Linked DNA regions of Homo sapiens. The protein of the gene in region 1 interacts with the protein of each later gene in a pairwise test. Each region holds a gene or a part of one and is shown in the gene's direction. Other genes may lie near its edges. The genes, in order: LBX1, UBTFL1, WNK3 and MAB21L3.

What was found.
Region 2: the proteins of LBX1 (region 1) and UBTFL1 interact in binary tests that used the Homo sapiens proteins (3 or more experiments, as listed by UniProt).
Region 3: the proteins of LBX1 (region 1) and WNK3 interact in binary tests that used the Homo sapiens proteins (3 or more experiments, as listed by UniProt).
Region 4: the proteins of LBX1 (region 1) and MAB21L3 interact in binary tests that used the Homo sapiens proteins (3 or more experiments, as listed by UniProt).

Annotation. Positions count from the first base shown.
Region 1 is NC_000010.11:101,226,479-101,233,299, reverse strand, and holds LBX1 (transcription factor LBX1), read left to right. Parts: upstream 1-3,836; 5' UTR 3,837-4,484; coding exon 4,485-4,809; intron 4,810-5,509; coding exon 5,510-6,030; 3' UTR 6,031-6,306; downstream 6,307-6,821. UniProt on the Homo sapiens protein: Transcription factor required for the development of GABAergic interneurons in the dorsal horn of the spinal cord and migration and further development of hypaxial muscle precursor cells for limb muscles, diaphragm and hypoglossal cord.
Region 2 is NC_000011.10:90,081,458-90,087,649, forward strand, and holds UBTFL1 (upstream-binding factor 1-like protein 1), read left to right. Parts: upstream 1-4,492; coding exon 4,493-5,674; downstream 5,675-6,192. UniProt on the Homo sapiens protein: Essential for proliferation of the inner cell mass and trophectodermal cells in peri-implantation development.
Region 3 is NC_000023.11:54,355,040-54,362,332, reverse strand, and holds the start of WNK3 (serine/threonine-protein kinase WNK3), read left to right. Parts: upstream 1-4,286; 5' UTR 4,287-4,647; intron 4,648-7,293.
Region 4 is NC_000001.11:116,106,712-116,114,400, forward strand, and holds the start of MAB21L3 (protein mab-21-like 3), read left to right. Parts: upstream 1-4,687; 5' UTR 4,688-4,799; exon of another isoform or gene 4,800-4,917; 5' UTR 4,918-5,099; intron 5,100-5,695; 5' UTR 5,696-5,904; coding exon 5,905-5,952; intron 5,953-7,689.

The DNA of each region.
Region 1 (6,821 bases):
ATGATCCGCACTGCTGGCCAAGTTAACTTGTTTCAAGCAGTGTCAGACCCTTTTCTCTAAAGGAACTCTGGCCTGAGAGTCAATGCTGGTGCTTATACAAATAATCTGGAAATGAATGGGGGTACCAAAACAATCCAGAGTGAATCCAATGGAGTCTTTGGGGGTTTAAGCGAATTCTTCTCCTGTGTTAAGGTTTAACCTGTTTTGTTTGGGTCTGCAGGGTCCCCTTATTGTGGCAATTCATGAAATGCTGTTTCCCTCTTCTTTGTCTGGAATATTCCCTAAACTGAGGGAAAGCAGATTTTTGGCAGAATGATCCCTTCCCTATCCACTGAGAAAGAATAAACCTGGACCCTGGCTGTTTAAGCAGCAAACAGGAATTGAGGATCATGGTAGCATATAGATTATGCTCTGAAGACAGGTATTCCCTCTGTGGAGCAGACTCTGGGAATCAGCTGCTTTCAGCTCCAGGTGAGAAGATGCTGGCCCAGCTGACTGGGGGTGGGGAGACCCCCAGAGTGTCTGCCTTGCCCCAGCATGGGGGCTCAGTAGGGGATTGGGCAGAAAGATTGGAGCCCAGAATGTCAGGGCTGGCTCTACCCCCACTGACCCTGTGTTACTCATTTCTGGAATCCTCCTAATCTCTAAACTCCTCTGAGGGGCCCAAACCATTCCCCTCCACATTGCACAATCATGTATACCCCATTTGCTCTATGGAAAGTCATTCAACCGATATTCAGCGGGAGCCCGGTGTCTCCTAGGACTTCGAAGGTCCGAGATGAACTGGAATACCCAGAGGAAGGCTCCTGCCCTCAGGTCTGGCAGAGGAGGCAGGTAGGGGTCAGTACACAAACCCAAAACATACCTCATTGCTCTGCAAGAGGGGTACAAGAGGCAAGCGGATTGGGGTCCCAGGAGTCCAGAAGATTCCAGACCCCCACACAATGCGGTTTTTCAGCAGCGAAGGTAGGGGTGGGACCACGGTGTTGGGAAAAGGTTGGTGTAGCAGGTGGGCTGGTTTCCAAAGGTGGCCTGGATAAGGGGATCTGGGTGAATCAAAACAACAAAACACAGGGTGATACCACAGACTTCCCCACATCCCTGCACCTCACACTGCACTCCACACCCCAGCCATATGGTGTGCCCAAGTGTGTTTAACCAAGAGGCCAACCAATTAGGTCAAAAGAGCCAAGCCATAGGATTGGACAGCAGGTACAGGTCAGCCAGGGAAGAAGAGGTTTGGTGTTGGTGGTGGAGGTAACTCAGCAGATGATTGTGAGACGTCGTGTTCCTTTTGACATGGTGTGGCTGAAGACTAAAGATCTCAGTACTAGCCAGCAGGATAAGACATTAAGAACACGCCAAGCAGAGGGACCCCTCTGCTCCCCAGTTCATGTTCCCCTTCCTGTCAGCTTCCCAGTAACCCTGAACTCCGCTGGTCTTGAGGATCTGGGAGATGGGCAACAGCAGGGGATTGGCTTGTCCTTAAAGTCCTATCCTGTGGGCTAGTACCAGATGCGATGCAAAGACTGAAGAGGACAGGAAGGGTGTGGAAGTATGGGAGGAACTCTCTCTCTCTCTCTCTCTCTCTTTCTCTCTATTGGGATCCAAGGGTCCTTGTTCCTGGATCTAGAGGGGCCTCCCTGCCTCCCTGCTAGCCTCACTTGCCTGAGGCTCTGGGTCAGGGGGTTGGGGTTATGGCAGGAAAAGGCTGAAATGGGATCCTGAGGGCAGGAAGTGAGAGGACTGACCCCTCTTGGCCCCAGAGCTTCCAAGCCACCCAGATTCAGCTCCCCAACGCCCTCTCCCACCGGTCCGCCTCTGCTGGTCTCTAGGCTCTGACTCCTCTGTTGCTAGGCCCAGCAGCACCTCGTGGCTCCCAGGGCAGCGCAGAAGAGTAGAGACAGGTCTGCCCTGGAGTGGGTCTGCAGCTCTGAGGGAACTGTGATTCCCATTCTCACCAATCCTGCCTCTGAGCATTTGTCTTCCCCCCACTCGCTTACTGCCACCCCGAAAATGCAGGACAAAGATGAGTTAGAGGGTAGGGGTTCTTCCCAACATTCACAGAACTGGGGCACCAAACAAGAACCCTTTCTCCCTACACTGTCCTTTTTACCCCAGAGAGCTGCCAGCCACAATTCCAAACAAACAACTGAAGGTGAGATCATGAAACCTATCTCTGCTGTGCAGAGGCCCCCTACGCTGAGGCATCCAGAGAAAGAACCTGCTTCCCGCCCCGGAGCCCAGCTTAGCTCACTCCCTCTCTGGGGTTAGATATGAGGGGAGAGGGGGCAAGAAATCCTAATCTTCCCATTCCAACCCTTGGCCTGGGCCACAAATCCTCACTTTGGCCTCTCTGGGCCCTTTTCTGGTCCAAGCGGTGCTGCCCAATGCCCAACCTCACCGCCCACCCAGGAGTTTACAAACAAAGCCAGGGCCAGGGCTGTGTGTGTGTGGGAGGGGAACAGCCCTTCTCCCTGGACTCCAACCCCCTCTAGGTCCTCCCCTCCTTTCTCCAAGGGCAGAAATGGAAAATTAGTAAGGAGGCCAGTGGCCCCACATAAACAGAATGGGGTAGCAAGACAGGAAGGCCTGAGGGCACAGCCCTGCTGGAATGCCTCAGGGAAATGAAAGAAATAGCTGAGTTCAAACACACCTATATACCCACAGGTTCACACACATTTACACAAATATACGCATGGAGAAACACACACAAACACACATTCAAAAACACAAACACCTTCAAGTAACAATGCACACAACATGTTCTCCCGATATTCACAGATCCCGGGCCCTAAGGTCTTTAGCCCCAGCCTAACTGGAAGCCTGGCCTCCCTGCGAGTTCCTGAGAGCAAAGCCCCAGCCGCGGCCTGGCTCCCGCCGGGCCCCCGCCCCGCATCCGGAACAGCTGGAGTCGGCCTGGCCATGCACTCAAGCCGGGCGCTGGGCTAGGCGGGGCCGGCAGCGGGGCCCCGGCCGGGGCCCGGGCGGAGCGCAGCAGGGAGGCACGGAGCCGGCCCCGTTAGCCCCGGCACCTGGCCTGGCTACTCTTCAGACGCCCATCATCAGGCCGTTGGTGGCCCCAGCCAGCCTGGGGAGCGGCTGCCGGAGGAAAGTGAGCAAGATTGCCGGAGGAGGTAGGGCGGCCGCTTCGGAATCAGGCCGGGGAGAGGCGTCCAGAGCCGCCAACAATTCCCTCCTCCGCCTCTCCGCGTGGAGAAGGCTGAGCTCTCCGACTAGCCCCCTCCCCCAACCCCTGGGGTCCTCCACCCCCTTCCCGCGTCGCCCACCCAAGGCTGCGCAGCCGGCTCTGACCTCCTGCGGGCCAGCGCAGGAGGGCTTCAGATTCCCTCTCCCCAGGCGCGTCGCCCAGGCAGTGGGGTGAGGGGCAAGAGGGTCAGAGGTAGAGGCGCTGGGCTCTTGATCTCAGCTCCGCAAAGTCCACTCTGGGTGGCAGCGGGGCCCACCCGGGCTCCTGGTCCTACCTGGCCCGAGCGGCGGCCGCGTCCCTCCCGGGCTGGGGTTCCCACCACTCTTTCGGGCTCCACATCCCGGGTCGGAGAGACCGAGACCTTCGGGCCGGTGCGGTCATTGCAGCTAGGCCGGCGGGAGGCGGGTGCGCCAGGAGCGCGGCTCGCAGTTTGGGGTGGGGGCGGTGGCTTTTCAGTCGCCCGAGGTTCGGGTGCAATAAAGGAGCAGCTAATGTAATTTACAAACAGCTCGGGCCGAACGCAGCGCAGCGCCCGGACTGACAGGCGCATTAGGCAGGCTAATTCCAGCCGGCTCCTCCTACCCCCGGCCCGCTAATTAATGAGCTTCCCAACTTACAGCCGCCTGCATTGGACAGACAGAGAGTGAAAGAGAGGGCGAGGGAGAGGGAGAGAAGGAGAGAGAAGGGGGGAGCAGAGAAGAGAGAAGAGAGAGGGAGGGAGGGAGAGCGAGAACAGGAGGAGAGAACAGAGGCAAAGAAGAGAGGAAAAAGGGAGAAAGGAGAGAGAAAGAGAAAGAAGTGCCGCTGCAGATAATTGATTACACCGCGATCAAGGCTAACTTGTTAGCAATAGTCAATTGCCCCGTCTCTCCGCCTCCCTCGCAGTCCGGGATCGGCGCCCTCGCCTCGGCTCTTCCAACTGCGGCCGCCAGGACCCGGGGCCAGGAGCCACTGCCGAGCCACCTGACACCTTTAAATAGCACCGGGGTTGGCGAAACTGGAGCCCCGCGCAGCGCGCCCCGGCTCCGGCCCCGGATTGCTGGAAGCCCCAGCAGCAGCGGCGCCCGCGTCAGCGCCCTCTTCCCGGGGCCCCGCGCTGTTCTCCCCTCCTCAGCCGCCGCGCTAATCGGCCCCGCGCCCGGCCCGCGCCCTGCCCAGTGCGGCCTCCTTTCCACCCGCCGCTGCCTGCCCGCGCCGTCCGGCGCCCGAGCTGCCCGCGGGCTGGGTCCCCGCGGCCCGAGCCGCCCCGGCCGGGACCCCGAACAAGGCCGAGATGACTTCCAAGGAGGACGGCAAGGCGGCGCCGGGGGAGGAGCGGCGGCGCAGCCCGCTGGACCACCTGCCTCCGCCTGCCAACTCCAACAAGCCACTGACGCCGTTCAGCATCGAGGACATCCTCAACAAGCCGTCTGTGCGGAGAAGTTACTCGCTGTGCGGGGCGGCGCACCTGCTGGCCGCCGCGGACAAGCACGCGCAGGGCGGCTTGCCCCTGGCGGGCCGCGCGCTGCTCTCGCAGACCTCGCCGCTGTGCGCGCTGGAGGAGCTCGCCAGCAAGACGTTTAAGGGGCTGGAGGTCAGCGTTCTGCAGGCAGCCGAAGGTAGGCGCAGCTGCTGGGTTCCCCTGCACCCAGCGCCTCGCGCCCTGTGCCCTGCGCGCTTCGTCCCCTATGCCTCTGCTCGCCTCTGCCCTCTCCGGCCGCCAGGGCCTTCCAGCCTGAGCAGCTGCTTATGGGAGTGAAGATATGTGGGACGGGACCCAATCCTTATTTCCCAGGGACCTCTGGGTAGGCCAGAGCTGGGGGGTGGCAGGAGAAGGGTGGCCAAGCTCTTTCCGCAGTCTGCTTGCTTTGCCGGGCTCCCTTGCGTTCCCAGTGTCCTGGGCGCTCTTAGCCCGGCTACTCGGCGTGGGGAATCGAGAGTCTTTTGCCGGGGACCTTATGGGTAGGGTAGAGTTGAAGTGATTGGGAAGGGATGGAGAACCAACATTCACACCGCAATTAGGGTGTCTCTGTCTGGCTTTCTCATACCCTTAGAGACTTTGGGTCTTTCAAACCAACTCTTAGGTAGGGGGCAGAGACCAAAACAATTTTTCCTAGGGACTTCTGGGAGACCAAAGACAGGAGATGGTTTGCCATAGCCAAGACTTGCCCTGGTCCTGGAGGCTGAATTAAATCTGAGAAGGGAACATTGGTAGACTGCAGGCCGGACAGGCCTGGGTGGGTTACGGAGTTACGGGGGCGAGAGCCAGGGTGGGCTTCCTCTCTCCCAACGCGAGCCTACACTGTCCTTTCCTCCCAGGCCGCGACGGTATGACCATCTTTGGGCAGCGGCAGACCCCTAAGAAGCGGCGAAAGTCGCGCACGGCCTTCACCAACCACCAGATCTATGAATTGGAAAAGCGCTTTCTATACCAGAAGTACCTGTCCCCCGCCGATCGCGACCAAATCGCGCAGCAGCTGGGCCTCACCAACGCGCAAGTCATCACCTGGTTCCAGAATCGGCGCGCTAAGCTCAAGCGGGACCTGGAGGAGATGAAGGCCGACGTAGAGTCCGCCAAGAAACTGGGCCCCAGCGGGCAGATGGACATCGTGGCGCTGGCCGAACTCGAGCAGAACTCGGAGGCCACAGCCGGCGGTGGCGGCGGCTGCGGCAGGGCCAAGTCGAGGCCCGGCTCTCCGGTCCTCCCCCCAGGCGCCCCGAAGGCCCCGGGCGCTGGCGCCCTGCAGCTCTCGCCTGCCTCTCCGCTCACGGACCAGCCGGCCAGCAGCCAGGACTGCTCGGAGGACGAGGAAGACGAAGAGATCGACGTGGACGATTGAGCGGCGCCCCGGGTCTTCCGCCGCCCTGGGCTCCTAGCGCTCGAAAGCCCAACGCCTCCCGGACCGGACCGCCGAGGGGAGCTGGGACCTCCTCTGCCAACTCCCGCCTCCTCCCCTGTCCCCGGCCCCGGACTCGGCTCCTGGCAGCCGCCTCTTCCCTCTCGAAGCAATAAACCCAGGCTGGCCGGCCGGGCCGGCCGCCACCAGCGGCCTCCGCCGCCCCGGAAGCCCTCGCCGTGCAATTCTGTATGGCTTCTATATAAATATTTAAACCTATATAGCGGGTTCTTCCCACCGCAGCCTGATTTTTCCTTTCTTTTATTATTATTTTTTAAATCTCGGAGATTTCGATGTTTTCAAAGCTCTCGGGCTGCCGGGTTTGCTGAGGGCGAGACAGAAACCAGGGCGGGGAACACTAACCCTGCGGTCTAGGGGAGTGGCAGCTCCGGCTGTTTTGATTTTTCTCTGCATGTGGCGAATGCACCGGCCCGCTCCTTCCTCGCCTCCCTCGGCCTTATTGCAGTTGACTTCTATTTCCTCGGGCCTTTTTTCCTCATGTGGGAGGGGAAGAGGTGGGCAGTCAGGTCCTGACTTGCAAGTTTCAAAATCGATCTTTCCTCCCCACCCTCTGAGAGAAAAGTCTGTTTTCGATGCCATTTCTGCCTCCTAATGCCCACTAATGCTGTTTTTAAGATTCCTCCCTCCCTCCCGCATTTCCTCGGACTGACTGTTGGAGTCCGGCTCTTAGGGACAATGCAGGGGGAAATCCAACCAACCAACTATCGAAAACA
Region 2 (6,192 bases), on another chromosome or scaffold:
TGGAGGGAAAGTCCTAGATATTATACAGTTTTATCTATAGCATGATATCTAGAATTTAATTGGAAACCTTTATTGTAGAATATGAAAAGTTCCATGTTGTCTTTAACTTCAGGTTGAATGCAGCCTTGGTCGTCTGCAAAGTTTTTAAGTGCTCAAAGGCACTTTTTTATTTTCCTAATATTCCACTGAAGTTTTTATTTCTGTCATGGTATTTTTATTTTACAAATCTATTTTGTTGTTTGAATCCTCTTTTTAAAGCCTCTTGTTATTTTTTGATATTTTTATTATATTTAATATAGTTTGATAATAAATATCATACATATGACTTTGTGAAGCTACTATATAAATGTTTATTTTATTTTATTTTATTTTTATTTTCCTTTTTTGAGATGCAGTCTCACTCTGTCACCAGGCTGGAATGCAGTGGCGTGATCTCAGCTCACTGCAACCTCTGCCTCCCAGGTTCAAGCGATTCTCCTGCCTCAGCCTCCCGAGTAGCTGGGACTACAGGGGTGCACCACCATGCCCAGCTAATTTTTGTATTTTTAGTAGAGATGGGGTTTCACCATGTCAGCCAGGATGGTCTTGATCTTTTGACCTCGTGATCTGCCTGCCTCAGCCTCCAAAGTGCTGGGATTACAGGCGTGAGGCTCTGTGCCTCGCCAAATATTTATCTTTTATGTTACAAAAATTTAAAAAACTAACAATTCATACAGCTTCATAAAGTCACAGGAGTTCATACATTTTGTTTAAGATCAAAACTTACTCTCAAATGGTTCAGGAATAAAATGTCTTAAACTTCTAAGTATTTCGTAAGTGATTGTGATAAAAAATGAAAAATAAAAATTAGATGGATTATGACACAGAAAAGGGAAAATCACACAACATTGACAAGGTCAATTTTTTTGAGACAGAGAGTCTCACTCTGTTGCCTAGTCTGAAGTGCAGTGATACAATCAAGGCTCACTGAAGTCTTGACCTCCTGTGCTCAAGCCATCCTCTCACCTCAGCCTCCAGAGTAGTTGGGACTACAGGCACTACAAGTGTGGGCCTGGCTAAATTTTTGTTTTTGTAGACATGGGGTCTCTCCATGCTGCCCAGGCTGGTCTGGAACTCCTGAACTCAAGCAATCTTCCTGCATCAGCCTCCAAAAATGTTCAAATTACAGGCATGAGCCACTGTGCCTGGCCCTATATAAATTCTTAGTTTTCCCAGTTTCTTTCCTTCTTTCTTTCTTTCTTTCTTTCTTTCTTTCTTTCTTTCTGTCTGTCTGTCTGTCTGTCTTTCTTCCTTCCTTCCTTCCTTTCTTCCTTCCTTCCTTTCTTTCTTTCTTTCTCTTTCATTCTTTTTCTTTCTTTCTTTCTTTTTCTTTCTTTCTGTCTTTCTTTCTTGTTTTTGTTTTTTGTTTTTTTTTTTGACAGGAGTCTCTCACTTTGTTGCCCAGGCTTGTCTCAAACTCCTGAGTTCAAACGACCCTCCTTTTGGATCTTAGGCTCCAAAAGTGCTGGGATTACAGGCATGAGTCACCATGCCTGGTCACAGTTTCGTCATATATGTAATGGAACAGCAAGCATAAAATGAGCTCACAGAGTTTTAAGGAGAAAAATAAGATATTAATAATAAATGTAAAACATTTGCATATTAGGTTCCTGGGGCTGCTGTAATAAACTATCACAGATAAAACAATAATTTGCTCTCTCACATTTCTGAATGCCTAACATTTAAAATCAACATGTTGATAGAGTGGTTCCCTTTGGAAATTCTGAGGGGAAATCCACCTCCTGCCTCTCTGCTAGCTTCTGGTGGGTGATGAGAATCCTTGGCTTTCATTGGCTTGTGGCAGCATAGCTCTAGTGAGCTCTGTCTCTGCCTCTGTCTCCACATGGCTGTCTATGTGTCTCAGATTTTCCTTTTATTTTTTCTCTAAGGATACCAGTCATTGGACTTAGGTCCCACCCTAAACCCAGACTAATCTTGTTGGGAGATTACCAAGGTAGTTACATCTGCAAAGATCCTATTTTCAAAAGTCCATATTCACAGGTTTCAGTGGTTAGGACTTAGACATATATTTCGGGGGGCCACTCTTTAACTGGCAATTTGAAAAAAATGTCTGGCTCAGAAAACAGCCCCATAACAACAAAAACACAACTGTATTTTTATTTCCACTGCTTTACGCACATCACCCTAACTTTTACAATTGGGAAGATGGTACTTCTTTTTTCCTAAATTCAGATTCTGAATATTTCACACCTCTTTTCTAATGTCAATTCTATGTTTTTTCCCTTTTTTCTGAGTTAGAATACATCTTGTATTTATTTATTTTTATTATTTATAATCACCACAATATATTTGGAAGTCTGACATTTTTTATTTCTGAACCATTTGAGACTATGTTCTGATCTTAAACACAAAGTATGGAATCCATTATTTTTTCTTTTTTTTAACTTTGATTTGTGAAAGTTACTTTTTTCTTAATTACTCTTTTTATTTGTTACATTACTAAGTTTGTTTTATTTTAATTTTCATAGGACATTGATGAAATGACTTTTTTATGATTTTTGAGATGAAAAATTTAATAACTTTAAATTTTACATTCTTTTAAGTTTTTCACAGTTTATTTTAATGCTTTTTTTTTGTAAATTTTAATTATAGTTATTTATATCTTCATTTATTATGGAACAACTTCCCAAAAGTCTTTTTCACATAATAAATTTAATATAATATATAAGCTATTATTTATTTTCTCTTCTGTCTCAAATATGGACTTTAATTATATTCCAATATTTCAGAACATTTTAATCTATGTTTTGAGACATTTGTGACTTACGTGATATTATGACTATTATTCTTTACACTTCTAGTGAATTTTTAATGTCATTCAAAGGCTACATCCTTCTATACTCTACTGAGAATTAAAAATAGTTCTCAAAAATATTATTCTCAGATATTCAGAACTCATTCTCAGAATTTCAACTTCCACCAGTATCTTAACTCTGTTCTCTTTCCCTTCTAATGCATATTTTCCCCCTGAAGGCCCACTGTTACACTCCTTATTCACCCTCCATTTAAGATTCGGTTTTATTTAATGTTGTATGTATTCGTACACAATTTTATTTATGTGAGGCTTAGTCTTAGAATAGAAGATCATCCTAAAAAGACTAGTGAAAGAGTTATGAGAATTTCAAGAGTGAATCCAGAAATCACGTGCCAGAAGAATTACTTCAGGCAAGACAGAATTGCTAAAAAAAAAAAAAAAAAAAGGAGTAGTCATCAGATCTGCCACATTTTCAAGTTTTGTAATGGAAAATGGCAGGTATTCTGGAGGGAGTTTCTGGAGGAAGCCAAACTTTCACTGAGGCTTAAATATGATGAACAATTAACCAAATAAAGTTGAAATGTTTTATAATTGTCATTAAATCCTTGATATTTAAAAGGAGAAGCAGTATGGTTCTTAGAAAGCATTCATTCCCGGCCCAGGAGTGGTGGCTCACGCCTGTAATCCTAGCGCTCTGGGAAGCCGAGGCAGGCGGATCACCTGAGGTTGGGAATTCGAGACCAGCCTGGCCAACATGGTGAAACCCCATCTCTACTAAAAAATACAGAAAAATTAGCCAGTCGTGGTGGCACATGCCTGTAATCTCAGCTGCTTGGGAGGCTGAGGCAGGAGAATCACTTGAAGCTGAAAAACAGAGGTTGCAGTGAGCCCAGATTGCCCCACTGCACTCTAACCCGGGCGACAAGAGTGAAACTCCGTCTCAATTAAAAAAAAAAAAAAGAAATAAAAGAAAGCAAGAAAGCATTAATTCCCATGCACTGGTCCTGGAGAATCTATAATTCAGTCTTTTATCACAGGTTCACATTCCCTTATAAAAAGGTAACAGTTGGATGCATGTCTGGAGGAGCTCTTGGGCTTGTCCGATTGTATCTTTAACTTCTCATCTGCACCTTTAGCTATGGCTATTTGGGCTGTGCTTAGAAAATGGCCATACTCAGGGCACTGTAGAATGAACAGTCCTTCCTGTTTAGGCATTTCTCCTTCCACTTTAACTTCTGACTCTGTCTTCAGGGCATTTCTGTTATATTAAGCTTCTTAAGTGATGAGTGGTCTGGTGTTTGTGTTATGCAACTCAATTTAAGATAGGTTCATGTGAGATCTGGCAGAAAGCAGGCTGGGGTGGGGTGTGGAGATACTGAATATTGTGCATGTAGCATATGAAAGGCAAACATAAATTTAATTCAGAAACAGGCAATGTTTATTTATAGTTAAGGGTCAAATGAATTATACAAGGGACATATGACAAATAGGATGTAATTTGCTTCATTAATCCAAATGAAGGAGAGTAACTTTCTTTCTCCTCAGAAATACAGAATCACACATACTGCAATACTTCCAGAAATAAATCATCCACTGAGTCTTAAAAGTAAAGAACTCTGTGTTCTTGCTCTGGTGTCTACATAACCGGGATCTTATAAGTAAGCCAAAGACATCTAAATGGCTTTGCCTAGAAGCCAAGGCCATTGGTCCAACAAAGACATCTTGAGGTTACTGGAATGCATGGAGAATAATCGCCCATCTGATGACAACAGCACGTTTAGCTCAACTCAGTCACACATGGACTGGGGAAAAGTAGCTTTTAAAAACTTTTCTGGTGAAATGTGCAGACTCAAATGGTTAGAGATTTCTTGCAACTTGAGAAAATTCGGCACTTTGAAAGAATTAGTCCTGGAAGCTAAGAAATGTGTTAAAAAGATGAACAAAAGCCAAAAATACAGGAACGGTCCAGACTTTCCAAAGAGGCCCCTTACTGCTTACAATCGCTTCTTCAAGGAGAGTTGGCCCCAGTACTCCCAAATGTACCCTGGGATGAGAAGCCAGGAACTGACCAAAATCCTGTCAAAGAAATACAGGGAACTCCCAGAGCAGATGAAACAGAAATATATTCAGGATTTCCGGAAGGAAAAGCAAGAATTTGAGGAAAAACTTGCTCGATTCAGGGAAGAACACCCTGATTTAGTCCAGAAGGCCAAGAAATCTAGTGTCTCCAAGAGGACTCAAAACAAAGTGCAAAAGAAGTTTCAGAAAAATATTGAAGAAGTGAGGTCTCTTCCAAAAACGGATCGATTTTTCAAGAAGGTAAAATTTCATGGAGAGCCTCAGAAACCCCCCATGAATGGATACCACAAGTTTCACCAAGATTCCTGGTCAAGTAAAGAGATGCAACATTTGTCAGTGAGGGAGCGCATGGTAGAGATTGGCAGACGCTGGCAGCGCATCCCGCAGAGCCAGAAGGATCATTTTAAGAGCCAGGCTGAGGAGCTGCAGAAGCAATACAAGGTGAAATTGGATCTCTGGCTCAAGACTTTGTCACCTGAAAATTATGCTGCATACAAAGAATCGACCTATGCTAAGGGTAAGAATATGGCCATGACAGGAGGCCCGGACCCCAGGTTGAAACAAGCAGATCCACAGTCCTCATCAGCAAAGGGTCTGCAAGAAGGGTTTGGGGAGGGGCAAGGGCTCCAGGCTGCAGGAACAGATTCATCACAGACTATTTGGGTAAACTGTCATGTCTCCATGGAACCAGAAGAGAACAGGAAGAAAGATAGAGAAAAGGAAGAAAGCAGTAACTCTTCAGACTGCAGCAGTGGAGAAGAAATAGAAGTTGATGTCTGAGGGCAGTGGCTCTAGTGCAGCTTCCTTGTTTTTTTTTTTTTGTTTGTTTGTTTTCTTTTCTTCCTTCCTCCCGCAAAGTAGGACAGGTTGGGAAGAAAGAAGCAACTTGGTGCAGCACTCTCCTACATCAAGATTATGAACCTGGGAGGAACTCTTTGGGAAGAATAAATATAAGTTTGAGCCAATACTGGCCTTATCCTTAAAAAAACAAACAAACAAATATCATCCCTTTCCCGAGGAACTTTATGCAATTAAGGCTTCTGAAATGAAGAGATGATTACGTTGTGGGGTACACACTGTATTAGACTGAATATTTCTGAAGCAAGAAGCTTTGCTTTACTCATTTTTGTCCTGCCAAAGGTGGTAGGGGGATACCCATAAGCCTGGGACCCAAACTTCCCTGTGGAAATGTTTTTCAGGACTCCTGCACTAAATCTAAGGTCGGGGATATTTGATGAAAGGTGGGGTAGGTGTCTTAAGAGAATTGTCCCACTCTTGATATCTCTCTCCTCCCCTCC
Region 3 (7,293 bases), on another chromosome or scaffold:
AATTAGCCGGGGGTGGTGGCACGTACCTGTAATCCCAGCTACTCTGGAGGCTGAGGCAGGAGAATCGCTTGAACCCGGGAGGCGGAAGTTGCAGTGAGCCAAGATTGCACCACTGAACTCCAGCCTGGGCGACAGAGCAAGACTCTGTCTCAAAAATAAATAAATAAATAAATAAATTGCCCCCTGACGTATGCTCTGGGCACATGTGGAAAGACTGCATCTAGGAAGAAGAAACTAGACCAATAGCAAGGCTGGAGAAATTGCATTATCCAGCCTGAAACGTGGAGTGTTTCTAAGTCAGTCGCTAAGCCAAAGATAGCTGTTCACTTCTGAGTATGCCCTTACTCAAGGAATACTCAACTTGTGCTGGGAGGAAAGAGAACCTTCTGGGAGGACATTAATAACCCTTAGATGATCCTGGTGAGAAATTCCCCTAGTGGAAAGACTTGGCTGGAGAAAAGATCACCCAGACATCCAAGCCCTGGGAGTTACTGCCTTGAACAGAGGCACCTGGATGAGAAGTACACTTTCCCTTGCTGGGATGCTAAGATTTAATAGAAGGAGAATGTGGCTCAGTATTATCTAGAGAATATAATATATTTTTTTTCTTTCCTGTATTTTTCTTTTTCTCTACCTGTCTCTGCCCCCAAAATAACATAGCTTTGTGGTGTACCTCAGGGGAGGGAGGTGGCAAGGCAGTAAAACAAATACTCTGCCACTCTTTCTGGTTTCTGTGTTTCCAAAACATAAGTCCTTAAGCAAGGGGTATTAGGGTGTAGGGGCAGAGACCAAGTATCTGGGCCAGAAAACTAGAAGAAAGAGTTGCACAAACCTAAAAAATGATTCTTCTCTTCCTCACTCCCCTCTCCTTGCGAGAAAGAGACAACAAGAGCAGAGAGAGATCTCTGTGGGAGCTCAAGCAGCATTGATTAGCCTCAGCTTCCCAGGAGCAACACCTAGCTGATGGGGAAGACTCAAGAGAGGAAGAGCTGTGTGGAATGTCTAGGTAGATGGCCCAATATCTATTGGGACTTCGGGAAAAATTCTGTGCCCCATGTCGCAGAGACATTGGAGAGGACCACAGCACTGGAAAGGACCCATGTGGGCAGAGGGCTCAGCACAAACTGCCAGGATCTAAATAACTAGAAGCAGATATCCTTACTCCACTCCCACTTACACCCATGCCTGGACATTACCTAAGATCCCCAAACTGTGGTATCACTTGGGTTAAGGGAAATGAACATCAAGAATGATGGACATTGTTTACCTCCCCGCCCCAATAACCTGGTTAAAAAGAGGGCACCGGGTCAGAAATTAAGTTCCAGAAACAGTCACAACTCTACCCATGGTTGCAGTGGTCAGCTAACTACAAACTTTGAGGTTCATTTCAGCTCCATCTTGTTGACTGAAGGAGTTACCATCCTGTGTGGTAGGAAAGAGACCAACAGATAGTAGGGCCATGAAACTAACCTCCTACCCCCACTCCTGTGGGATTTTGGGGTTTAAAAATGATTCCAGTTAAATTTTTTGTAATTTATTGGCACCGGAGCCTCTAGAAAAAAATGAATTAGATTATTGGAAGGATGATTTCCTGGAACAATGTAAAACCAAACTACAAATAGTTAATATAAATCAAAATTTCTGTTTGATGAGTAGGAACATTGCAAATGTCACTTGAGAGTCAGTGGAAACCAGTGGGTAGGAAGGGAATGTTCCCTGTCATACCTTGGTGATTAGCTAGAATTGCCCGCTCCCCTTTCTGCCTACAGTGGCATTTGTGCTGAGTTACAGACCAGATTGTCCCAAACAGAAGAGCACATATGTCAATAAAAGGTCTAAATTGAGAAGGACCTGTATTTGGATGGGGAGCCGACTTGTTTGATTTTCAAATTTCTAAAGGTCATAAAAGTCACTCTACTCAATAGCTTTTTTTTTTTTTAACAAGTATTCAACTATCAAAGAGGTACTGCTCAAAAGAATTAACATCTAAGCAGATTGAAGGGCTAACATTTCCAAGTGTTGTTCTTTATTCATTACCTACATCATCAGGCTCAGAGACAAGGGAAGAGGAGCAGGTCACAACTGAGCTAGATGCCTTTTCATGAAGGTGATGTGTGTGGCAGTGGTGGGAATAGGGTGACACTGAGAAACAGAAACGGTGGCCACAAGTTTCTAGTTGCCATCTCATGGGAGTCAGGACCTACAAAGACTTGGGATAAACTGGTAACCTTTGAAACTTTGAAATTGCCCCTTACTGGTTGTTCAGCTACTCTTCCTCTGTTTTTCCTACACTAGTCAACCAATCAACAGGGAAAAGGGACTATCTTCAGGGACAGTGAGGAAAGGAGCGTGGGAGACCCCATCCATTTTTCAGCTAATTGAGACTTCAGAGACTCTTAAGGTAGAATGGTGAAGCTATTTGGAGAAACCACACCTTGCTCTTTCAAATCGGCCAGGAAGGAAGATCTCCACCATTCTAGTGGCTGGACCTCATAGCCCTATTGTTTCCTCAGCATCTCCCTCCGTTGTCAAAACGGAAAGATGGGAGTTTGAATGTATTAAGGGCATGGTCCGGTTTCCTTACATATTCTGGCAATATGGAAATTAATAAGGAAGGGACAGAGGCAAGAGATAGGGCTACAAGGCCTCCCATCATTATACTCACCCCCCCCTTACAAAGTCAAAGATAAACCATTACACTTTATTTGGACTTTGGAAACCTGAGTTAAATGTATTGATTGTGCTGTTTTAAAGAGCTGAAAAAGACTGAGATTTCTGAGGCCTACAGCAGGAAAAGAAAAATAGGTAGTGGAGAAGGGATAACTCAGTGATAGGGCCGAGGCTGGAGGGCTGAAAGCATTAGTCAGATATTTCCCACACAGCCTCCTAGCTTGAGGGGCATTCGAAAAGAATGCCCTGCCCTTTAGCTGCGCCACCAGATGACTCCCGGGAGATTGAAAAATGCCTCGGCTCTGGAGTGAGCACACCTGGGTTCAAGTTCTAACTCCACAAATAGTATGAAGTTGAGCAATTCATGTCCATTTCCCCTCCTGAGCCTCAATTTCCTCCTCTGTCGGGCCGGGATTATTCATGGGAGAATGACGGAAACAATTCTATACTGCTTCTGGCATAGCACAGGAAGCAGTTTGAAGCCGCTGCGCCGAGGCTAACATGTACCGAAAGCTCGAAGGAGGCAGCATTCACTACCAGCTAGAGGATCTGGGAGTTTTTCAAGGAGGTGGCCGGTGGGAGACACAGAGAGCCAGTCTCAGTGGGAGGCAGCCTTTCCGCATGCGCGCGCTCTAGAAGCCTGGCGGCGGCGAGGGGGCGGGACCAGGTCTCTGAAGGGGTTGCTATGGCACCAAGGGGCCGAGGAGGTTCACCGAACCCTTAAAACCATTGCTCCCTCCCCCACCTGCCACCATCAGGGCCGAGGGCCATTGTTCCCGGCAAAATGGCGTCGGAAATCCCCCTCCCGGTCAGAGGCCTAAGTAAAACTGAGGGTGGGAGTCGGACCATAGGTGGGAAGAAAAACTACAATTCCCAGGGTACATCGCACCCGTCTGCGAGGCGCAGGGCACGTGCCCAGGCCTAGCGGTTACATGCCGTCAAAAATCAGTTTCATAGCTTCCCTTTCCCATCCCTGCTTTGGTCGTTTCCCAGCCCCCGCGCGCGCGCACTGCGGTCCTGGGGGGCGGGGGAGACATGCCGTGGCTGTTGCCCCCGCAACGTAACTGGGAGGCCAGTATTTGTAAATCGGTGCTTCGACTTCTAATCCCAAAGCCGGCAGGTATGGGTCTCGCGAGAAATCCCGGGAGTTGGAAAAAGGGAGTCAGGGGTGGCGGGCGAAAAGGTGCCGGCGGGTACCACCTCCTAACAGCGGCGCTACAGCATTCAGAGGCTCGCGGAGACCCAAGGGTGGGCAGTGGGGGGCTAGGAAGTAGTGTGTGCTTGGACTTTTCTTCTTCTTCTTCTTCTCTGAGGGGAGAGGGTAGAGCAGCTGAGAGAGAGCGAGAGCGCTTCGGAACACACAGGAGATGTCGCGCGTGCTTCCTCTAAGAGATTTTCTCTTTGGAATGGGGAGAAGCCTTTCTCCTCGACGCGCATCCCTCTCTCCCGCGGCGCCGAGGGGGGCGGGAGGCGTGCGCGCACTCTAGTTGGCTGGCCACTCGGCACCTCGCTGCGATAGGGGCGGTTCCGAGTTGGGGCTGCTCCGTTGGCTTTCTCCGCCCCTCCCCCTCTTCTGTTCTCCCCTCCCTTCCCCGCCCCCCCTCCGCCCCTCTCTCCTACCCGTCCGAATTCCCTGGCTGGAGTACGCGTGCGTCTGCTCAGCTCCGGGCCGAGCGCGAGCTTGGGCTCGTACCCCGCTCCCCTCTCTCCGCCCGCTCTTTACCTACCGGCCGTAGCTGGCCCGGTGGGCTCGCGGGGAGACGCTCGCGCGCGCAAGCGCACACGACGCGGAGCGGAGCTCGAGACATCGAGGAGAGGAGTAAGAAGCATCGGAGGAGGCGATCGAGGAGGAGGCGGTGTGTGTGTATGTGTCTATTCTACGGTGTGGCTCGTCGTGGGGCGAGAGGAGGCTCGAGAGAGGGCGAGGGAGAAGCGAAAAGAGTAAGAGAGTCTTCCTTTGCGAGAGCCTCTAATCTGGTGAGGGTCCCGGGCCGGCCGGGGCGCTAGGAGAGAGGGAGGAGGCCGGGGGGCGTGTCTGGGATCGGGCTGAGAGATGAATGGGCCAGGGATGAATGGAGGGAGGCAGCGGCGGCCAAGAGTCTGTTAGGAGTAAGCGCCCTAGCGGGGGGCGGCTTGACCGAAGCAGGGTGAGTGCCTTCACCAGTCGGTACCGGACGAGGCCGGGCTCCGGGCTAAGGGGCTGTCGAAACTGCTGAATAGGCGGAGAGGAAAATGAACAGGGGGAAAGTGGGGAAGGGCAGGTTTGAGGCTGAGGTGCGTTTTTTGTTTTGTTTTCTTTTTTGTTTTTGATTTTTTTTTTGGTTGTTGTTGAGGGGTGACAACTTTGGGAGCTGATGGAAGACCAGGGGACGGGGAAGGTGAGGAGGATACAGGAGGGGGACAGGAGACGGTTGACAAAGGACTGAGTGATCACTTAAGTGAGATTGAAGCTACTGAAAGGGAAGATCGCTTCGGGTGTGGGAAGTTCAGTTGTATTGATGGGAATAGGATGAAGGAAAGAGTAGATTTATTTCAGAGGTTCAGCTGATGTGTGAGGGACAGGATGGGGTGAGAAATATTGCTGGCTTGTGTAAATGTGTTAGGCTCAAGGAGATTCTGAGGTGTTATTTGGGAAGGGGTGGTGTGTGTTGTGTGACTGACAGGTTGGGGATGGGGAGGAGATGGTATGATAGGTGAGGATGAAAGTGGTGAGGTGGCTTCACTGTACTGAAAGAGGTTTTGTTTGACTAGTTAAAAGTGGTGAAACATTTATATAATGGGGTGGGGGTGGAAATCCTGCACGTGAGTATCTCCGTATCTTGGGGGTTGAGAGACTGTTAAAATGAGACTGAACCCTCAAAACAGATGCGAATAGTATGGCTATTTTTTCTTAAGAGTTACTGTTGATTGAGACAATTATATGAATAAAACAGCTTTTGAGTTGTGAAAATCTTCTGCATAGTAGTGATTGTATCCAATTTTTGGAGATACCGTTATCTGTTTTTCATCTATAGTAAGTTGTAATACCAAGAGAACTTTTGAAGAGGTCTTAGTATGTGACAGAGCAGCGGGTGTCTTTTAAGACGGTCTCTATCCTTTGGATTGATGAGTTTAAAAATTGTTTAAACTCGACAGCTCAAGGGAAAGATACCTTGCATTAAAGGATAGCAAAAATGCACTAAAGCTTAGCCGGGCGTGGTGGAGCGTGCCTGTAATCCCAGCTACTTGGGAGGCTGAGGCAGAAGAATCTCTTGAACCTGGGAGGCAGAGGTTGCAGCTAGCCAAGATTGTGCCACTGCACTCTAGCCTGGGCGACAGAGCGAGACTCTGTCTTAAAAAATCCACTAAAGCTGACTTTGAACTAAAATAATTGTACATTTTTTTTGGTCATTACGAATTTATCTTTGAAAATTGGCACTCGCTTTTTGGTGTGAGTTTAAATTACAACAGATTACGTGAACATTTTGTTCTCTGAATACTTATCTTCTGATAAGGATGTCTTGTCCTGGTCTCATTCTGTTCTGGGTCAAGATTAACGGTTATGGATTTTAATCTTTTGTGATTATTTTTTACACATTTTACTGATATATATTTAGTTTTCTTGGAAATGTTGCAAACTTGAGAACATTCCCATGCTGTTTTTCTTTTATTCTGCTTTGATATTGGAAAGAGTGTAATCCTTGTTTAGGCTACCCGCAGTTTGAATACAAAAGGTCATATTCTGTTCATAGTCTCTCAGATTGAGATGAATACTTAATGTATTAAATAGTACAGTAGAAGTATAAAGGCACTGTAAGAGCCTGGAAATGTTGCACTAACTCAACCAGGCAAGGCGGCCTCCCAGTTTTGAACTAGATGTTTCTAGATGAAGGACATTCACATTTTGGGTCTTGAAAGTGTAAGCATGGTATATTTGGAGAATGGAATGAGATAAGGCTGGAATCTTAGGTTGAGGCTGGGGTGAATTAGGAACTCTTGATTGTTTAAGAAGGGGAATAACATAAACAGATTTATGGTGTTTCTCTCTCTGCCTTTGCTTCTGATGTCCCCCTCTACCTGGAATGCTCTCTCTCCCCCTCCCCTAGAATTTGAACTCATTCTTTTAAAACTTAACATTTGTCACCAGCTATTCCTGAAAGCCTTTCCTGGTTTCCCTTTCTTCCTTTTCCCAGCATCCTCCACCAAGCTAGGTTAGGTCCCCCTCTTTAGAGTTCTATCATACCTTGTACATAATTTTATTACGGTACTTTGGTTGGGAGGCAGGTAGGAAAGGTATTTTTCTCCTTCTATCTGAAAAAGAAATGAAGCCCAGAAAAACAAGACATGCCCTAGTAAGTGGTGAACCCCGGAGTTCTGACTTCTAGACCATTGTTGATCTTCATATCACAAGTTTACATTTGCTTAAATAATTATAGTTTTAGGAGTTAGATTTCTGTAGTGTTGACTTAACTTTCTTCCATAGAGTTTTGTTTTTACTATATTGTTCATTGCTGAGCCGGTAAATGATAAAGCCAGTGGCTGCAAAGAACCAGAGTAGGCAGAAGTAAAGAAAATAATGGATATTATTATTATTATTTTTTAGAGGGAGTCTCGCTCTGTCACCCAGGCTGGAGTGCAGTGGCG
Region 4 (7,689 bases), on another chromosome or scaffold:
AACTCCTGATCTCAGATGATCTGCCTGCCTTGGCCTCCCGAAGTGCCGGGATTACAGGCATGAACCACTGTACTCGGCTTTGTCTTCTTTCTTAAATGCCTTTCTCACTGTCAGTGTTTTTCTGGTGGTGTCAACTGAAAAATATGCCAGCCTCACACAGCTCAGGGCAGAGGAAAAGGAGTTTCACATAGACTTAAGGAAAAGTTTCAGATAAAAATACAACTCTTTTTTTTTTTTAAACCAGGAAGGAAAATGTGAAAATGGAAACACCTTTTACTATTTGATTTGAAAATAAAGTGTCATCCAAGCCATAGCAGAAGCTTCATTATTTTGACAACTGGTCTCTGTTAAAAATAAGTTTCCAGGTTGCCCTCCAGCTTGCACCATTTGAATGAGGAAGATCCAGAACGACATTCTAGTGCGTAAAAATATAGATAGGTGGACATGCAGAGAGATGGAAACAGATATAGTCTCCCCCCAGCCCAAACCGACAAACCGAGATTTTTTTTCTTTTTTTTTTTTTAGACAGGGTGTCGCTCTGTCACCCAGGCTGGAGTGCAGTGGCACAATCTCAGCTCACTGCAACCTCCACCTCCCGGGTTCAAGCGATTCTCCTGCCTCAGCCTCCTGAGTAGCTGGGATTACAGGCACCCACCACCATGCCCAGCTAATTTTTGTATTTTTATTAGAAATGGGGTTTCATCATGTTGGTCAGGCTGGCCTCAAACTCCTGACCTCGTGATCAACCCACCTTGGCCTCCCAAAGTGCTGGGATTAAGGCATGAGCCACTGCACCCGGCCCAAACCAGGATCTTCTATGATGTACGATTTTTTAACTAGAACAGGTCATCTTTGCTGCATAGAGAGCTGGCGTTGACAGCACTGGTTATTTCTCATTCTTTCTTGTTGACCACAGGCTCTACAGTGGTAGAGTTGTTGGTGTTAAATAAACTTTTATTTTCTTCCTTCAGTCTAATATTGGGGAACTAGTCCTTTCTATATGTATTGTGATAATAATTGCAGCTAAGAAATAATGTACTTTTAATTGAAATGGCCAGATGGAGCCATGACTTTTTCAAAGACATGGGTTTTTGGCTTCTAAGTTCTACACGGCATGTTCTAATTATTGGGCAGTTTTTCAACATTCCTGACACCTTTCGGCTGTGAATAGTGGCTTCCTTCAAGTACACAACATCTTATCCTGTTGTTTTGCACTTTCTGAGTTGAAATCAGCCTTTCCAAGGAAAATTTCCTTATTCCTTTTCTACTTTTGTTGTGTTCCTAAATGAACTAATGGGAGCTTACTCATTATTTAACTTTACTTTTCTCACTTTATCTTATGCCTGCAGATGGGAGATAGAATGGGATTACATTGTAGAATAAGAAAAGGGGCCACCGTCATTTAGTCATTAATTCATGCATGCATTCATTCATTTATTAAGCAGCTACTATATGTCAAATACTGTTTCCAACAAGGTAAATCTTTTCCTTTAAGGAGCTTTTGGTACCACAGGAGCTAGATACAAGCAAAGTAACAAAATGCAGTATGATAAGAGCTAAAGTAGGAGTTTAGCACTGGGTGGCCTAGAAGCATCGTGTAGAGTCCCCCACCCAGTCTTGAGAATCAGAGAAGGCCCTGGAGCAGGTAGCAGCTAAGACAAATCTTGGAGAACAAATAGAAGCCCAGTGAAGGGGTGGAAGGTAAGGGGAGAGTCCAAGCAGTGAGCATTGTCGGTGCAAGGGTCCAGAGAAGATGGTGAGGGAGGGGGTCTTGCAGGGAACTGTAACTATTTTAGTATTGCAGGAGTGCAGAGTGCAGGGGTGAATCTTGTGTGTAGTACAGTGTTGCTTAAAAAAGATAAATTAAATAAACAAATAACCCAAACAAGTTAGAATATCCCAGATAGGATATATACTCTTGCATCCACCGCAGACCCCTATCGCTTTCCATTGTTCTACTCTATCCTGATTTATTTTATTAACCACCTGGCCTATGTAGGCATTTGTGTTTGGGATTCCCTACCTCTGAACCCAGACCAAAGATCAAATTCAAACTATCTCAGTTACCATGTCAGGTGTGAAAGGAAAGAAGACCAGCTTTTTGATGGAACTGTGAAGACCAACCCAGTGAACAATCCTACCCACCAGGTAAGACCAGGAGAATTACTCACATACATTAAAAGAAGGATCTTTCATATGGAACCAACCTAATTGTCCATCGATCAATGAGTGGATGAAGAAAATGTGGTACATATACACCATGGAATACTACTCAGCCATAAAAATAATAAAATTATGTCTTTTGCAGCAATTTAGATGGAGCTGGAGGCCACTATTTTAAGTGAAGTTACTCAGGAATGGAAAAACCAAATACCTTATCTTCTCACTTATAGCTGGGAGCTAAGCTATGGGTATGCAAAGGCATACAAAGTGGTATAATGGACTTTGGAGACTCAGAAGGGGGACGTGGGAGGGGACTAAGGAATAAAAAACTACATATTGGGTACAATGTACACTATGTGGGTGATGAATGCACCAAAATCTCAGACTTTAGTACTATACAATTCATCCACATAACCAGAAACCACTTGTACGTAAAAAGCTATTGAAATAAAAATTTAAAAACAAAAAACCAAACAAGCCTTAAAAAATAGATCTTTTTCCTCAGGGAGTGAAATGGAGTATAAACACAAATATTTATTGAGGTCTTATCATGTGCCAAGTACTATGCTAAATTTTTTTTTATATCAGGCCTTTCTATAAAAGAAGATAGCAATTTAAGCAGTCACAGATGCATGTATATAATTAAATTTATAATTTGTAAGGTGATTTTACACATCTTAAAATATATTTTATTTACTAGAATGTCACTTTATAATGTGACATTCTAATAAATAATGTCATTTTGCATAATGTTTAATGCAAACAAATAAGCATTCAGTAATGTTTATTGAGGGCCAGTTGTGCGTTAGGTACTGAGGCTTCTCTGGAGATACAGAACAGACTGGCCCCTGCCTCGGGTTGTTCACTACTGTGGACTTCAGCACATCACAGACGATTATCTCTGCCTGGTATTCTGCATTGTCAGATTCAGTCTGAGTCATCTTGGGATTACAGGAAATCTTTTAAAAAGTCAGAGTTTGTTCCTGGCTAATATGGTGAAATCCCGTCTCTACTGAAAATACAAAAAAATTGGCAAGGCGTGGTGGCGGGCGCCTGTAGTCCTAGCTACTGGCGAGGCTGAGGCAGGAGAATGGCATGAACCTGGGAGGCGGAGCTTGCAGTGAGCCGAGATTGCGCCACTGCACTCCAGCCTGGGCGACAGAGCGAGACTCCGTCTCAAAAAAAAAAAAAAAGTCAGAGTTTGTAATCCTGCAAACTTTAACAAATTTGTATATTTAAGGTTGATTTTGATCAAGCTAACCTTCCTCCTTCTTGGAATTAAAATCTCAGACACTAAGTAAATCAGTAACAAACACTTCTGCTGGTAAACCAGGGCTAGCATTATCTCCCCGGGACTTCTCAGATTGGCAGCGTAGGGTTTTGCATGCCTTGTTAACCTGACTTGTAATAAGTTCTTAGTCTTCACAATGGAAACTGAGCCAAAGCAGGTTTACATTTCCGTACTTGCATTTGGTGTGAGTCATGAGAAAGGAGAATATTTATTTTCTGAGGAAGGAAGAGAACCTGAGCTAACTTTGAATTTCCTCAGTGGCCTAGCATACAAGTGCCTTAGGCTTACTGTAATTCAATCCTTTTGCGAATCCTATATCCAATTACCCAGATATCTACATCTAAAAAAAGCTTGTCTTCATCAAACTGTCAGACAGGAGCTGTCAGAGAGTCTATTTGTGGGACTGCCCTGTATTTCAGAGCATTTGCCCATAAGGAGCTAAATCATGGAGTAGGGAATTGGGTTGTGCCCCCACAACACACCTATTCCCTGGATATGACATCCTGGTAAAATCGGACTGTGTAGCTTCCCTGAGCACATGATTATTTCTTCGTTTCCTGATTGCTCAGTTGGCCCTGTTGGTTGCTTTCCCTGCTCACAGCCGGCAATTGTCGCTGGATCGTAGGGCAAGAGAATATTCCAGTTATAACATTTTGATCAGCTGCGGTACTGGAGCAATCAAGATAGGGCAGCCACAGGTGCAAAAATAATGAAAGTTTGTGCATCTGATGACAGGTGTCTGGGGTAACCCTCGAACATTAGGAAAGACCCCACCGGAGGAAAGGGACTCACAAGTTAATGATTACAGTGAAAGCAGAAGTAACAACAAAAATGAGCACATGAGAGAAACAGTGGGACTTTCGTAATGTTGAAAATGAGGTGGAGAGAGAATTCTAAATTGCAAGTTCAGAGAAAGAGGCTCTTGCTGTCTGTGAAAAACAAATAGTTTGGCACTACTATGATAAGAAAAGCCCAGGGAATAAGATTCTGAAAAATTTGGGAGCACTTGATATCAAAAGAAGGAGATTTAGAATTACATATAGAAACAAATGGAAAATCAAGGCTGTTTTGAGGGGTGCTATCAGAGGGTCATTGGAGAGGATGTAGCTTTACAATATTTATATCAGGCTGTGCATTGGCAGGAGTTCTGTAGAAGTTGGACTGAAAGCTGGAGGTAATGACGTGGGTGGGGCACAGAGCAGCTAGGGAGCTCTGATGCGGCTTTTGCTTGGGGCAGAGTATGGGAAGATATGCAAACGCTGAGGCCCCAAATAGTGCAGTGGCCTTTGTGGGCAGCACTTACAGGTGGGCTTGGAAACACTTGCCTTTGGAACATTGTTTAAAAGTAAGTAGTGCTCCCAGAAGGGCTGTAATTTCTTTAGATTATCTGATAGCAGACTCCGTGATGTTTACCAGCTTCAAGGAGATCAGACCATTGTGAAATTTTTTTTTTTTTTCTGTAGTAAAACTAGCCCCAGCCAGCCCAACTGGGAATTTACTGCCTGAGCTGTTTTCCAACATAAGTTTTGCTGGCAAAACCAGACGTGAGTGTTCCCTCGACTCTAAAGGGACCTGTTTACACTGACTTTATTTTTACTGCCAGCTTTCAAGTTGGAAGAGGGAAATTACGTTTAAAGGTCAGCAGGTGAGCAGAAGGATTCCTGACCAGCCATTCCTGTGGGTGTGTGCCCGTGTGCACTCTGTGTACGTGTGTGTGCCTGTGTATATGTGTGTGCCTGTGTGTACGTGTGTGCCTGTGTATATGTGTGTGCCTGTGTGTACGTGTGTGCATGCTTTTCTAAATGCCAACCGTTGTGCTCTGCGCTGGCTGACAAGACCTGATCACTTGTTTGCGGGCATAATGATGGGTGTCAGGCTGGTTGTTGGGCAGTTTCCTATTTGTTTATTGTAAAGAAGGTAAATCAATCCGTGGGATTTTCTGGCTTGGAGAGCAAGGGGTGTTTACTGTCAACAGGATAAGGACCAGGAGATATAAGATACTGAGTTCCACGGTGCATCTAGTGTTGGGACAGGAGCATAAAAGGTGGGGAGAAGCCAACTACAGGGTATTTCTGACTTGGATGGAACTTTTAAGTACTTGGGTGGGAAATACAATTTGGAAAATTGCTCTCTGGTGAAAGCACCAGTCAATGTAGCTAACTAAGGTATGATTAGGTTGGACTCAAATTCAATTTTATCAACTCTTCTTTTTAAATTCTTTTTTTTTTAATTTCCCAAAAGATGACAGATGGATTTTCACAATTTGGAAATAAAAACATGAGTGAAGGGTTCGGAAGGCAAGTCTCTGGTCCATTACACACTTCCAGAAAAACTTAGTACCCAGAGACTCACATTACTGGGAGTGCTATCTACTCACAAGTGTTGCACTCCATTGAGAAAAAAAAAAAAACCAGGAAGTTGCTGTTCTACTGAGGACTGACCAAGAAGCCATGAAATACCTTACTGTGGGAGACTTAGAAGATTGCCTACTGAATAAGGTAAGGACAGACCCGGTCTCTCCCATGAACCCCCTCCCCATTCACACTACTTCCAAACAAACCTTCGTCCAGAAAGGATCTCAGGCTCTTTCTAAAGACACATAAAATGCTCCTCAGAAAACAGACTGTCACCTATAACAATGTTTGGGGGCTTAACATATATCAGCCTTACTTCTCTTTGAGGGTCTGGTACCCAGAGACATGCTGAGTATAGAATATAGAATGGAGAGTAGGAATCTGGGGAATGAGGGGGAACTCCAGCTCTGCCACTGACACTCGTGTGGTTGTGAGTCACTTAACCTGCCTGAGCCTTGGCCTTCTTCTCTGTAAAATGGGAATAATAATAGGAGCTTCATGGGGTAATGGAAAAAGAGCTAATGAAATTAAAACAAAGCTTTTTAAAGACTGTGAAAGTACTAGGTTTTTAAATATTATTATATTTTTAGTACACATCAGTTAAGAACTTAATTTCTTCTAGATGGTCTAGATGGTCATGTCAAATGTTAGAACTTGAAGGAAACTTAAATATTACCTAGTTTAAGCCTTTTCATTTACGGATGAAGCTACTAAGGCATGATGTTAATGTTAAAACCAAAATATTTAAATTGACTAAGAAGTAGGCACTGGTCTGCAGTTTTCATGCCTTTACAAGTTCGAAAGAGAAGATCATTATCATAGTGATAAGTAAAATGTATTTCTTAGGCAAAACCATTAAGAGAGATAAATAAGGAAAACCTGGGATGATAAAAACTAGAGTAAACAAAGTGATTTCCCATTAATTCCTCCCTTTGAGGGCTCTAAGTGGAAGAGATATTGGCTGGCATTTTTTTCGTGGGTCCTGTATTTTTTGTAAGAAAAAACTCCAAACTTTTTAGTGTGGTGTTCAAGTAACTTCAACTGCTCTATCTTTCTACCCTCCGCTCCCCCTGCATTTCCAATAGCAGAAATCCTAAACAGTGTTCGACACGTTGAATCCAGTGTGTGCTCATGTTTTGTTTGGCCTGTAGATTATTTCTAATGTTTTTCACAAACATTTCAAAATAGATTTTGCATAGAAATCCAGATTTCTGTCTTTCCAGGGGAAAAAAATCAGAATATTTCGCAACTACAGGTCCCAGTTTCTTGCCTGGAAACTGTGTGCTGGGGCTGAGTGTTTGCTAGCCAGAGCACGTGCTGGCCAATTCTCAGGAGGCTGATCCTGTGTCTGACACTTGCTCCTGGTCCCCGCTGCCTCTCTCACGTGTGTCCCCTACTCCATTCCTGTAGGTGGTTGAGTCTCCCATTTCTGCCCAACAAGAACTGGGCCCTGAGCAGGCCAAGGGCCCCAGCTCCTCCTCGCCACTTTTCTGGCTCATATTCATCCTTCAAACTCAGAGTCCACTTTCTCAAGAAAGAGTCCCTGACACCCCAGCACAAAATGATTTTGCCCACATATTCACTCCCGTTATAATTAGTATTACTGGCACCATTTATTTGATCATGAGTTTGTATATTAACTCCTGACACTTTTCTATTATCATCTTGGTTGGCAACTTACATGTCATATCATTTCATTCTTTATAAGTTTCTGGAGGGAAGAACAGTGTCTTGCATACCTTTCTTTCCTTTGACATTCAGAGTATCTTGCACATATATGATCAGAAATATCTTTAGAGTTCGTTAAAGGCAAGAGTGGTGTGGAAGGCGACAGGTCAAGGTGCATACAGGATCTCATTTAACCTAATCAACAACTATGTG